Homo sapiens: one gene and its partners. The protein of the gene in region 1 purifies or fractionates together with the protein of each later gene. This does not show direct contact. Each region holds a gene or a part of one and is shown in the gene's direction. Other genes may lie near its edges.

Region 1 (3,500 bases):
TGTTCCAGTTGTGTGATTTAACAGATACTTTAGGACCTCTATGATAGAGCGAAACGTCCTTTACCCACCTTGAGGCAAAATTGTGTCTTAAACTCAATGAAGAGGTTGTCTTCTGGGCTTTTTCATGGTGTAATTCAAATTCTAGCTTAAGGATGTTTTATGGATCACAAAACATTGTAGCTTTCACTTTCCTGTAGGCCTTTGATAGGGAAATTGGTCAGTAAAACCTTGGCTGAAAGGTTTTTGCATCCTAACTTTTTCTGGAAATACAACAGTGAAAGTCAACGGTTATAGTGTTGCTGAAAATATTTAGGAGTGTGATGATCTAATATTTAGAGGGTTAAAATAATGCTGTTAATGTAGCTTTAAAAATAAAATAAAAATATTTGAGACAAATTCTCTGAAGCCACGATTATCCCTTTGCTATATATTGGGTTCATTTTGCAATTTATGACTCCCCTATGATACTATTAATTCATTTCTACCTCCTAGTGTTTCAGTGATGAACAGTGGTAGGAAATATGTGTTCTACTTTTGACTTTGTCATGTACTTGAGGACAAGGGTCGGAGTCTGTAAACATTAGTTTCATTTTACATAAAATAAAGATGATAATATCTGCCTTGCCTTTCTCATGGGGGACAGTGCATAGCAAATGAACTAGTGTACAAAAATGATTTGGAAAATTCAGGAGGAACTGTGACAAATATTATATATTAGTGAACTTAATCACTTTAAATTTCTAATTAGTTTCAGTTAAAGAAGTAAATTGATAGAGGTGAACCTAATGTGTGAATTCTATTTTATTAGGTTGGTGCAAAAGTAATTGTGGTTTTAGAATATCTGGTATGTTAAATTTGTGGCATTCTTGTCAATGCACTTATAATTTATTCATAAAAATTATGAAGTAAGTGGTTATGTATTTTTATTGCAAGTGTGCTGGCAACAAATTCACTCAGTTTTTGTATGTCTGAAAATATTTTTAAATAGATGTAATTTTTAAAGCTAAGTATAGCATTTTTGTTTGGCAGTTTTTTTTTTTTCAACATGTTGTTATTTTTATTTATTTATTTTTGAGACAGAGCCTCACTCTGTCACCCAGGTGGAATGCAGTGGCGCAATCACTGCTTACTGAAACCTCTGCCTCAAGTGGTTCTCGTCCCTCAGCCTCCTGACTAGCACCATGCCTGGCTAATTTTTGTATTTTTAGCATAGATGGGGTTTCACCATCTATGCTAAAACTCCTGGACTCAAGCAATCTGCCTGCCTCAGCCTCCCAAAGTGCTGAGATTACAGGCATAAGCCACTGTGCCCGGCCAACATTTGTTATTCTTTTGACTTCTCACTTCCATCAAACCTGTCAGTCATATTGTTGCTATGAGGGTAAATGTGTCTTTGTCTCTGGGTGATTTTATGATTTTTCATTTGCCATTATTTTCTTTAGTTTTCTATATATTGCTAGGTATAAGTTTTTTGGATTTATCCTCCAAGTTTGCAGAGCTTCTTGAATTTGTGGATTGTTATCTTTCATCAGGTGAAATTCATTGGTGAATTCTTGACTATTATCTTCTCATAGATAGCTCTACTTCATTGTGTCTGTTTTCCTGAGATCTGAGTTACATGTTTAATAGATGGTTTCACTGTACCCAACATGCTCCCTGTACTTGTTTTACTATTTTCTACTTTTTTTTTCTCTCTGTGCTTGTTTGAGTATTCTTTTGACCTTCTCTTCAGTTTACTAACCTTCTACACCATGCCTGTTATACTGCTCATCCACAGGTTATTACTGTAATTATTGTATTTTTTTAAATTTCCAAGTGTACATTTGATTTTTTCTATAGATTCCAATTTATCTGTTTTCTCCATCTTTTCTTCTATGACTTGGAGCATATTAATCAAACTTATTCTAAGGTTTTAGTCTGCTAATGTCAGCTGTATTGCCGTGAGCCTCTTTTCAGCATATCTTTACTCTTAATTTTAGTTATTGTATATAAAAATTATAAAGACTCAGCCAGGTGCAGTGGCTCATGCCTGTAATCCCAGCACTTTGGGAGGCCTAGGCAGGTGGATCACCTGAGGTCAGGAGTTCGAGACCAGCCTGGCCAACATGGTGAAACCCCATCTCTACTAAAAATACAAAAAATTAGCCAGGCATGGTGGCAGGTGCCTGTAATCCCAGCTACTTGGGAGGCTGAGGCAGGAGAATCACTAGAACCTGGGAGGCAGAGGTTGCAGCAAGCCAAGATCGTGCCATTGCACTCCAGCCTCGGTGACAGAGTGAGACTCTGTCTCAAAAAACAAAAAACAAACTTATAAAGGCTCCAGATGATCTATACATCCCCAAAGAAGTATCAACATTTCCTCTGCTAGACAGATACGGTGGGATGGTAGCCCATAGTTGTAATCCACCCAGTGACTGAGCTGACTCACAAGTTGTTAGACTTCTGGGCTCCCAGATGCCAAGGCGTAGCCACCGCACCCAGCCCAGATGTCTTGAACTTCTACTGGTGCATTCACAGGCCCTCAACACAAGCCAGGACAAGACTCCTGAGAATCCGCTCTTCTTTCCAGAAGCTTCCTTCTCAGTGTCTTAGCCTCCACTCATATGTGTAACTTCAGGCTTTAGCAAATCTCATGTAGGTAAAATCAAGTATGTGTCAAGCTGAGCGCTACACCTTTTACTTCTCACTGAGCTCTTGGCCCCTCATAGCTAATTTTGTCTCTCCAGTCCCTCAAGACTGCCAAAATCTCTGCTAGATTCTTTGTCTCACATCAGTGGTCCTCTGCTCAGGCAAAGCCCGTATTCTTAGTCTCTCACTGTCTTTCCAGATTGGCAATTGCCCCCACTCTTCATCCCGGGGAAAAAACATATTGTGAAAAGTCACATTACCTCCTTGGTACTTCTTCCATCTGTAATCTTGAAGCTTCTAGTCTTGACCTCTTCTGAAACTCTCCACCAGGTTTTATCAGAATACTGTCCTTATATCTGGCTTTTCTAGTTATTGTTGACCAAAACCATCAGCTGAAATGTGTCATTATTTTTAACTGATAATAAACATAGATGTACAGTGATCAAAGATCATTTCTTGATGGTAAAACTGGAGTTAGTAGTCCCATCCCACAGCCTCCTACGCAATACAGCTAACTCCAAACGTATTTTTAGAAGTGGTATAAAACGAAGGCAGGTTCTATCAAACAGCCATTAATATACTATGTGCCATTTTATATTGAGACTGTTTGTCTGTTTTTTAAATTTTGAGGTAAATCTTTGTGACAGTGAAGACCAGTAATTCAAATAGCCAATAGATTAAAGTTATTGGTAACTAAACATAATAAATTGGTAAAACTTTTGTTTCTTTTAGGACTAATACACACCCAAAAATACAGACACAGACACATGTGTGTATGTGTGTGTGTGTGTGTGTGTGTGCATAAAAAGTAAGGCTCCTTTCTGAACACAAGAACTCCATGGTTAACGAATCATTCTAACTTACAAATAAGC
Region 2 (2,187 bases), on another chromosome or scaffold:
GCCATGCAATGGTGTCTGTGTAATTATTTTGCTCTTTGATTAAAAAAAAGACCCCCAGCAATAAAAAGTGGGTCACTCTATGCCCTCTGTGCACATTAGTCTCTTGTATTCAACTTTGCTGATTCTCTGGAATTTTCCTACTCTTTAGCATAATTTTGATGATTGAAAAATATTTTGGAAAGGATGGGTCAGGTGCTTTGCCTCCATAGTCTTTTGAAGTGCCTGCATATGAACAACAACAACAACAACAAAAAATTCTGTAAAAAAGGAAGCCCATTCCACTTTTCAAGTATGCTTTGTTTTAAGCCATAAAGACACACATGTAGTTTTGTCACATTCTACTAGCCAAAATTTTCAAGAAGGGTTAAAACAAAGACTGGCTAGAAAGATAATTATTTTGAATAAATCTCATATTCATCTTTCATTTATATAATTGTTACTTATTCCTCCCATGCAGTCTCTTCGTTGTCTTTAAGTGTGTGCCTCCAGGCATGCTTATTTATTTTTATTGTCTCAAGGTAACATTTAAGATGTATATTAAAGTAAAGCTACATTTTTTTACTTCATTATTGCATTTACAGGGATTTAATTGTACTTTGTAATTTATTTTTCTTATTAGCCAAAAGTTTAATGCATTTTTTTTTGATGAATTAGGCACCCACATGAACACCACAAATCAGGACATTGTTTATCATTGTTGCTATGAATCCTATGAATGATCTTTTTTTTATTTTAAAGACCTACACTTAACCTACAAAACATTTGCTGTATAATTTGGTCAACAGTTTCTATCTATCTGTATACTGTCATGATGTCTTAAACTGCAGGAGTTACATACTGAGTTTATATTTTTATTTGCTTTGAGCAAGGTAGATAAACATTTTGGCCATTATAATGTGAAACCACTTCTTCTTTCTTTACAGTATTTGACCAAACTTGTGTGTCTATGATATTTGTAAATACATGCGAATATCTGTATTTCTTATCATAAGCCTATTTAGTTTTATTCTCAGTAGGGTTTTTTGGATTGTACAGTGTTTATATGATCTGAACTCCTTATACATAAGAAGGTGTGTATATTAATCCAATTATGGACTTAAAATATTTTAAAAGTATAAATACCCTTATTTGCTGCAAAGACCAGTGTGTAGGCATTTGCTTTTTAGCAATATTTTTAAGTGCTCCATTTTAATGCCGAGGAATAAGTCTTTTGGCAACACAAACTGGTCAATAATAGGTAATGCAGGTATGTTCAGGTTAAGCCAACAATGTTTTGCATTTTTATGCTTATTTTCTGTCAACACTAATGAAGTCAACATTGCCTGAATGTCTGAATAATGAAACACATCCCTGTTTAAAAGTATGTAACTGAAAAAGAAATAAAAAAAAATAAAAGTAGTTTTTTTAAACTTGCTCTTTCCCATTTCCTCTAAAGATGGGTAAAATAATGTCACTCCCTAATTTAAGATAGGAATTATAAAAATTTGGTTTATTTAGTCTGTTATATATGAGAAGCAGAGCTAAAGGAATATGCTTTTGTTATTTTATGTTTTGTTTTGCTTTCTTGAAATCCAGTGGTAAAAAGCACACACTAGGAAGGATCTAAGCTTTCTTTAATATAAAAAAAATTATACTTCTCTGAACTGTTTAATAGAGCAATAATTAAATACATCTTCTGATAAATTAAGGGAAATAGCATCATTTTTCCTTTTTGAGAATGGAATCATACTATTATGTTCACAGAAATTAAGCATTATTCCAGTTTTAAGTGAATGACTTTAAAATCATTGTAGATGGGGAGCCCATATTTCTAACAGTATCTCATAGTTCATCATTGTGCTAGGTGCTTTAAGGGATTTTACAAAATGGCATTAATGGTACGCTACTTACTGAGGGATGCTACAGGTAAGAAAAGGCAAAGCAGCCCTCTCTCACCCTGTGAATATTGTGTCCATTAAGCAGCAGAGACCTTCAGAAGCAGGAGAAAGATCTGGAGATGACACAAAACTGTTAAAGGCTCTATTTAGAAAAATTCGACTTTAAGATTGGGATTTCAGTCTGAATGAATGTATAGTTGCATTAGTCAGAACTCTTTGAATTGAAAGTGACAGAATTTAACCTGGCTTGAGCAATAAGAGTGTACATTATTTCATTTAACTGAAAAGTTCAGTGGTAGGACTGCCTTCA
Region 3 (3,500 bases), on another chromosome or scaffold:
AATGCTGTAAAGAAACGTTTGATGACAGACAGAAGGATTGGCTGCCTTTTATCAGGTGAAGTCAATTAAAAAAACCTAATTATATTTCATGTGTGTTTAATTGAAATGATTTGTAGCCATCCCTTTGGTTTTTACTATAAAATATTTACTGTATGATTTACTCTTTCCTTCATTATAGGATGGAAATGATTTTTTATAAGCTGTATTTAATAGTCATAGTCATACTCCAACTTGAGTTACACTATAGCTATGTTATTGGTGTTAAGAGTGAGTCAGTGAATGTTCTTTAGAATTCTGTGTAGTGATTTTTAACCAATTCAAATACTACTATTATCACAGTTTATATATTTTTCTCTTGTTGAAGTTGATTTCAGTTTATAAAACTTGGCGGATTTTAAATAGTAAAACTATGATCTTGGTGTTTATCAGGAATATACATCTTCTGTCCCTGTCTTATGCAAGGCACATAACTAGGACACTTCCACTTCCTCTTTTGCATGTAGGGGGCTTGGACTCCAGCTTGGTTGCTGCCACTCTGTTGAAGCAGCTGAAAGAAGCCCAAGTACAGTATCCTCTCCAGACATTTGCAATTGGCATGGAAGACAGCCCCGATTTACTGGCTGCTAGAAAGGTAAGGTGCTGTCTCTGTCCCTTGTGTAGTGTAGTTAGAGTAGACTTGTTATTAGAATGAAAATGGAGTCAATAATGGGTGATTCTACTGCTGCTGTATTGACTGGGTCAATTGTTTTAAATTGATTGTATTAAAATAGAATGAAATGGCTGTTGGATATGCACTGTGTTGTACACTGTCCTCTGTGTACTTTTATCTGTTATGACCCATGCAATTCTCACAAAGACCCTATGATGATAAGTATGCTCTTTTGAAAGTAAAGGTGTCTGGGCATGGTGGCCTACACCTGTAATCCCAGCACTTTACGAGGCTGAGGGAGGTAGATTACCTGAGGTCAGGAGTTTGAAACCAGCCTGAGCAACATAATGAAACTCCATCTCTACAAAAAAATACAAAAACTAGCCAGGCTTGGTGACGCATGCCTGTAGTCTTAGCCTTATGGGAGCCTGGGTGACAGAGTGAGACCTTGTCTCAAAAAAAAAAGAAAGTAAAGGCATAAGTCAGGTGCAGTGGCACACACCTATAGTCCCAGATACTTGGGAGGCTGTGGGGGGAGGTCTGAGCTCAGGAGTTCAAGTCCAGGCTGGGCAACGTAGCAAGACCCCATCTTGAAAAATTAAAAAAACGGGTTTTTTGTTCGTTTTTTTTTTTTTTTTTTTTTAAACGTAAAGGCATAGTATCATGGCTAAGACTGCAGACTTTGGAACCTGACTTGTGGTTTGAAATCCTGGCTCTACTCATTTATGTAACCAAAATAATAGTGTCTGCTATGGGGAAATTTTAAGGTGAAATGATATAATTCATGTAAAGTAAGTAGGGTAGAACTTAGCATGTAGTAAGTACTTAATGAGTGTTAGCTGTTATTATTATTTTTGAAAGTACTGTATTTAGAATACTGTGGGCAGAGGGCAGCTTGTCTGTATTCAGTGAGCGGGAGACCTAGTTCCCACTATGGAGGACTTTCGTAGCATGGATGAGAAAAAGCTAGAGAGCAGTCTCAGTGCAAGGTAATCAATGCCGAGAGAATCCAAAATAGCCAAGGAAAGCAGAATGAGGGGAAGGGCCATTCTATATAAGAATAACATCCTGGATATAAAATTAGGCATTTAAGAAGGACCAAAAAAGACCAAGCTTAGCGTGGGACCATGTTGGACTAGAGAGAGATGAGGTGGGTTAGGTAAAATAGGTAGAGAGGGAGGTGCCAACTGGGAGAATGGTTGAAGCCTTGGCACCAGAGGAGCTGAGGGGAGACTTACTTCCTGGTGGTGGAGTTGAAGCAGGCGAGGGAACAGTGCTGGATGGGGCTTGTATGTGGTGGGCTGTAAAGTCATTTTTCTTTTTTTCCCTTGTTTAGTTTTCACCATTGTTAATTCATAAAGCTTTGTGAACTCCCATCATGTTTGATTTTCAAGGGAAGTTATTTTCTTTAACAAGTAAATGGGTATTTCTTTATATAATAAGGTGGCAGATCATATTGGAAGTGAACATTATGAAGTCCTTTTTAACTCTGAGGAAGGCATTCAGGCTCTGGATGAAGTCATATTTTCCTTGGAAACTTATGACATTACAACAGTTCGTGCTTCAGTAGGTAAGGTATTATGATATTCTTAAATAAAAAGCTTTTTTTAATACTGAAAAAAATGTAAGGTTTAAAAAAATTATTTCAAGCCATAGTTTTAAAATGTTATTTAAGGATGAATGCAAATTAAATCCCTATGTTACTGATTATTTAAGACCACTTAAGAATTCTCTGAATCTCTTTTGGAGTGAAGGGAATAGTAAATACGTAGTTCAACCTCCACATTGTTGGTGTCACTGTTGGTGTTTCCCCAGGGAGCAGATACATATTTTCTGCCCTCTACCTCCCATTTCTCTTATAGTTTCTTGGGCTACAGTCTATATACAGTGAGGAAATAGGTCTTTTTGGTAATGCATTTTTGATAAGAAATAGTCATTTTAGATATATTCCATCACACAACTTACCAGTCACTAGCTATCATTGCTCTGCAAACAATACTAATTTTATCTTGTAGATAATGTATCTACTGAGATTGGAAGTATACCCCAAATCAGACTGATCCAGTGTTATTGAGCCTTTATATGCTACTGCCTCCCTTGAGAGACTTGCCTTGGAAGGCAAAAATATCTTAGGTATTACAATGGTTTATGGCCCTCCAAAACATCACAGTAAATAAGCAGATAGACAGGATAGCTCTGGTATTGGAATTTCATGGGGCTGGGGTGAGGTTAGGAAAATAAGTGTCTAAAAAGGCTCTCTAGCTGAGGTGATAATAAAAACAAGGTTGAGAAGAAACACTGGTTTAGAGAGATGTGGTGCAGGACCAAGGAGGCAAGTTTAATAACTTATATAGTCTCCCCAGCTTTATGTGAAATCTGGTAAATGGGGAGTGGCAGGGGGAAAATACCCATCAAAATTAACACTAAACCACCAAAACGGTTATTCTTATTTTTGTGTCATAATACCACTATGAAAGGCATGATTTTTAGGTATTTGAGTCATTGTTCAGCTTAGCAAAGTTTTGAGGTGGACATTCTTGGTCTAAAAACATTAGAATTTTAAAACCTGTTTAGAAAATGACAAAATGGTTCCGGGTTATTTTATTTTACAGTAGTACTTTTGGATTAAGTACATATAAATGGCTTATAAATACAAGGTCATTATTGTGGAAACTACTTTATATTAATATGAAGTCCAGTATAGTAGTAAAGCTTTCAATTATTTCCAAAAATCAAATCAAAGGCATTTTTGGTGGAAGGTTATGTTGACATTAAAGTTAATTTCTCTCTCTCATTTAAGGTATGTATTTAATTTCCAAGTATATTCGGAAGAACACAGATAGCGTGGTGA
Region 4 (3,500 bases), on another chromosome or scaffold:
AGAGGACATCTACTGGACAACATTTTTTATTAGCTATATACTAGTTCTTAGAAAATAAAAAACCAGCAAATCAAAATGCCTCTGTATTGTCTTCCTTAACATTCTAAACTTTGGACAAACTAGTCCAGACAAACCATCTCTCAGCTCTTACTAGCATTCTAATTGGTTTTATTTTGGTAGATTTTCTCTCTTAAAATTATGTGTAAATAGGTTCTTTATGTGTGACTTTTTTTCTGTCAGATGATGATTCATACTATTACATTTATTTTCAGTCTCATCCAAAAACAAAAATACTTAGTGATGAAAGATTAGGAAAATTGAATATGAACATTAATGTTTCTGTTATCTCTGTGATACTCATCCTCCTTTTGCGCATAGAAACTAAGTGAGAGCCTAGAGTAGTTATCTTAAAAATGCTTTCAGATACGTAATTATCTTTATGTGGTAATATAGCAAGGATGAGAACCTGCCTCTTCCTGTCTACCTACCAGACATTTATAGGAGGAGGCAATAGGAATACCTAAAGCTAAGAATTAAGGACATCTGGAAAATCCTTTGACAAATAGTGAAACAACAATTAATGACAATGAAATCTATGACCAAACAAAGATCAATACATTTTTATATATTAAAGATTACATGTGTTGATCTATTTTGTCCCAGATAAGCTTTGTTGAGTGCTTACTAGGAATGCAAAACAAAATATAATTCATATATATTCCTGTTGTTCGTGTATACAATTTTTATTATTCACAGGAGTTATGTTCAATGAAGCTGCCACAAACACTGAAATAACAACTACTGAACCATTACTCCTAGGGAAACTATAGGGTTTGATTCCTCCAAGCCTTTGTTCACAACATTTTCGTCAACCAGACAATGTATAACTTTGTTTTGCATGTGTTTCTGTTTAAAAACAACTTGTTTAATATATATTGTTGAGTCCTTAACATTGAACTCACAGCAAACAGTGCTATAACTCATGTCTTAATGAAGCATATCTAACACATACTTTTTCTCCATAAAGCACATCACAGCTTTCTTGCATTTAGGAACACTAGCTGGCATGTTTGTACTTCATTTAGTGACCATTTTAAACACTGAAATTAACAACAAAACAAACAAAAATGTGAAAAAACATAACACTAAATAAACTACAAAGGACACTTGTTTATAGATTCAGAGCTGAAACAACAAGCCAAAGCATCACCTTGTTCAACCCCAGCTGGTAACATGCATATCAGGTGACTCAAATTTTTTGCCACTCTGAAAATATCTACAAATGACCATGAATTGATTTTGGGGTTACAAATACATTTTAGAAAGCAGGCAAATTCACAAATGTGGAATCCATGAATAATGAGAATCTATTGTACATATGTTTAAAAATCAACCCTGTTCCTAGAACTGATTTGATGGTTTTGCATTTCTTACAGACACAGGTAGGACGTTTTGCACCTCAGTTCTCTGGATATCAGCAGCAAGACTGTCAAGAACTGTTAGCTTTCCTATTAGATGGATTACATGAGGATTTGAATAGAATTAGGAAAAAACCATATATACAATTAAAAGATGCAGATGGAAGGCCAGATAAGGTAAATTTCATGATCCTATTGTCACCATTGTTATAATTTTGTGATACCTCTTTCTAATTTGTGTCTATTATCCTTGTAGGTGGTTGCCGAAGAAGCCTGGGAAAACCATTTAAAACGAAATGATTCTATCATAGTAGATATATTTCATGGCCTTTTCAAATCAACTTTAGTTTGTCCTGAGTGTGCTAAGATTTCAGTAACATTTGATCCTTTTTGTTACTTGACACTTCCATTGCCCATGAAAAAAGAACGCACCTTGGAAGTTTACTTAGTTAGAATGGATCCACTTACCAAACCTATGCAGGTAAATCATGGGTTGGTTTGTTTTGTTTTTTTTTTTTTTTTTTTGCATTTGTTATTTTTATTAAAAAATTAGTGTTGAGTCCTTATTATAAAAATTAAGTATTGAATTATCAAGCCCAATCAATAATGTTTATTTGTATAAGAGATTTTATAAGCTGAATACTTTGGAAATCAGTGTAACTTTTTACAGTCTTGAAAGAGCAACGTGTGTCTTATAAAAAATTCTCAAAAGGCTTTTTATAGAGGTTTATTTTTATAATATTGGGGTGAATATTAGCTTATGAAGATCAACATAATATTTTTAATTTTTTTAAACTTCAACTTTCTTTAGTGTTAATTGTAATTTTTTTTTACTAGTGGCTATTGGAAGTAAAGCTAATACTTTTAATTCATAGTGTGATAGTAGTGTATTTAAATACCTGTAATTTTTAGGCATTTTAGGAACTTAAAAGAAAGTAGAAATTCAGTTAGACTAAAAATATTTTGTTCAGTGATGTTCTCTAATTTCTAATACTTTGAAGTATCACATATTGTTTATTCTGTGCAAAAGTCCTGTGGTAAGTCTTACTGTCAAATTGTCTGCCTGATTCCGTTACCTAGTGTTATAATTGGATTATTTATATTTTGTGGGTAAAGCACTATCTTTTCTCCCTTATTTATTAATCAGTTAATCCTCTTCTGACACTTGACCCATCCCAGTGAAAGTAACTTCTTCTTTTTCTACCTCTCTTTCCCTAAATTCTAACACTTAACTAATTTTGTTATAACTTTTGGCTTACTTTTATCTTTTATCCCTAGACTACAAGTCTTTGAAGACAGAGACCTTGTAAACCTTTGTATTTCCAGCTTTTGTGGCTGGTAAATATTAATGCACAAGAAGTATTCAAAAATTTTATTCATCAAGATACTTAACTATGCACCTACTAAGTATAAAGCTCTTTGGCTAAACAAAAAAGATATGATTCCTGCTTTAGAAGATTGTTTTCTGTAAATTTTTAGCCAAATAGCTCAGTTTGTTAGTGCATAATAGTCACGATGTCTATATGAAAGCTATATTTGAACAAAATTATGATCTTACCATTCAGGGATGTATTTGGGTTTATTGTCAACAAAGACAGGGTATATGTAGTGTTCATAAACACACAGTCCTTTTATTCAAAGTAATTAAAGTCTAGTAGATACTAGGTATGTACTCAGTTATGCAAATTTAAGCAATTTGTTTTTCTGCTGCTTTATGTTTTCTTTATGAACTCATTGAACACAATGCCCTCATATCAGTATTTCACTGGAGAGTGCTAAGTACTATCCCTTATCTGTGAGCAGAGCCAATAAAGACCTGCTTTTACTTTTGGCCTGGGGAATATGTGTTCACATTTTTAAAGTTATATCCTTTAGATATTCACTTATTCACTCGTTTATAAGTACAAGATTGTCAACATTCTTTTCAATGGTGAGAAACTATAACAGTGCCAAACCACATCCTTACCTCTCTAGTTTATAACTTTGCAGATATACACCAATGAGTGTAATGGAGCAAGAGAGCGTAGAATAATAAGTATAAATTTACTGCAACAAAAAATAAATGTAGATGTTTTATTTCTC

Evidence for each region. Proteins that work in one complex are often made in the same cells at the same time.
Region 2: the proteins of MARCHF1 (region 1) and CSNK1G3 purify together in Homo sapiens (affinity purification with mass spectrometry; one large-scale study listed by BioGRID and IntAct). This does not show direct contact.
Region 3: the proteins of MARCHF1 (region 1) and ASNS purify together in Homo sapiens (affinity purification with mass spectrometry, with the first as the bait; one large-scale study listed by BioGRID). This does not show direct contact.
Region 4: the proteins of MARCHF1 (region 1) and USP15 purify together in Homo sapiens (affinity purification with mass spectrometry, with the first as the bait; one large-scale study listed by BioGRID). This does not show direct contact.

Annotation. Positions count from the first base shown.
Region 1 is NC_000004.12:164,377,520-164,381,019, reverse strand, and holds part of MARCHF1 (E3 ubiquitin-protein ligase MARCHF1), read left to right. Parts: intron 1-3,500. UniProt on the Homo sapiens protein: E3 ubiquitin-protein ligase that mediates ubiquitination of TFRC, CD86, FAS and MHC class II proteins, such as HLA-DR alpha and beta, and promotes their subsequent endocytosis and sorting to lysosomes via multivesicular bodies.
Region 2 is NC_000005.10:123,615,363-123,617,549, forward strand, and holds the end of CSNK1G3 (casein kinase I isoform gamma-3), read left to right. Parts: 3' UTR 1-1,687; downstream 1,688-2,187. UniProt on the Homo sapiens protein: Serine/threonine-protein kinase. Casein kinases are operationally defined by their preferential utilization of acidic proteins such as caseins as substrates. It can phosphorylate a large number of proteins. Participates in Wnt signaling.
Region 3 is NC_000007.14:97,855,409-97,858,908, reverse strand, and holds part of ASNS (asparagine synthetase [glutamine-hydrolyzing]), read left to right. Parts: coding exon 1-55; intron 56-503; coding exon 504-631; intron 632-2,092; coding exon 2,093-2,219; intron 2,220-3,449; coding exon 3,450-3,500.
Region 4 is NC_000012.12:62,382,404-62,385,903, forward strand, and holds part of USP15 (ubiquitin carboxyl-terminal hydrolase 15), read left to right. Parts: intron 1-1,436; coding exon 1,437-1,595; intron 1,596-1,674; coding exon 1,675-1,899; intron 1,900-3,500. UniProt on the Homo sapiens protein: Hydrolase that removes conjugated ubiquitin from target proteins and regulates various pathways such as the TGF-beta receptor signaling, NF-kappa-B and RNF41/NRDP1-PRKN pathways.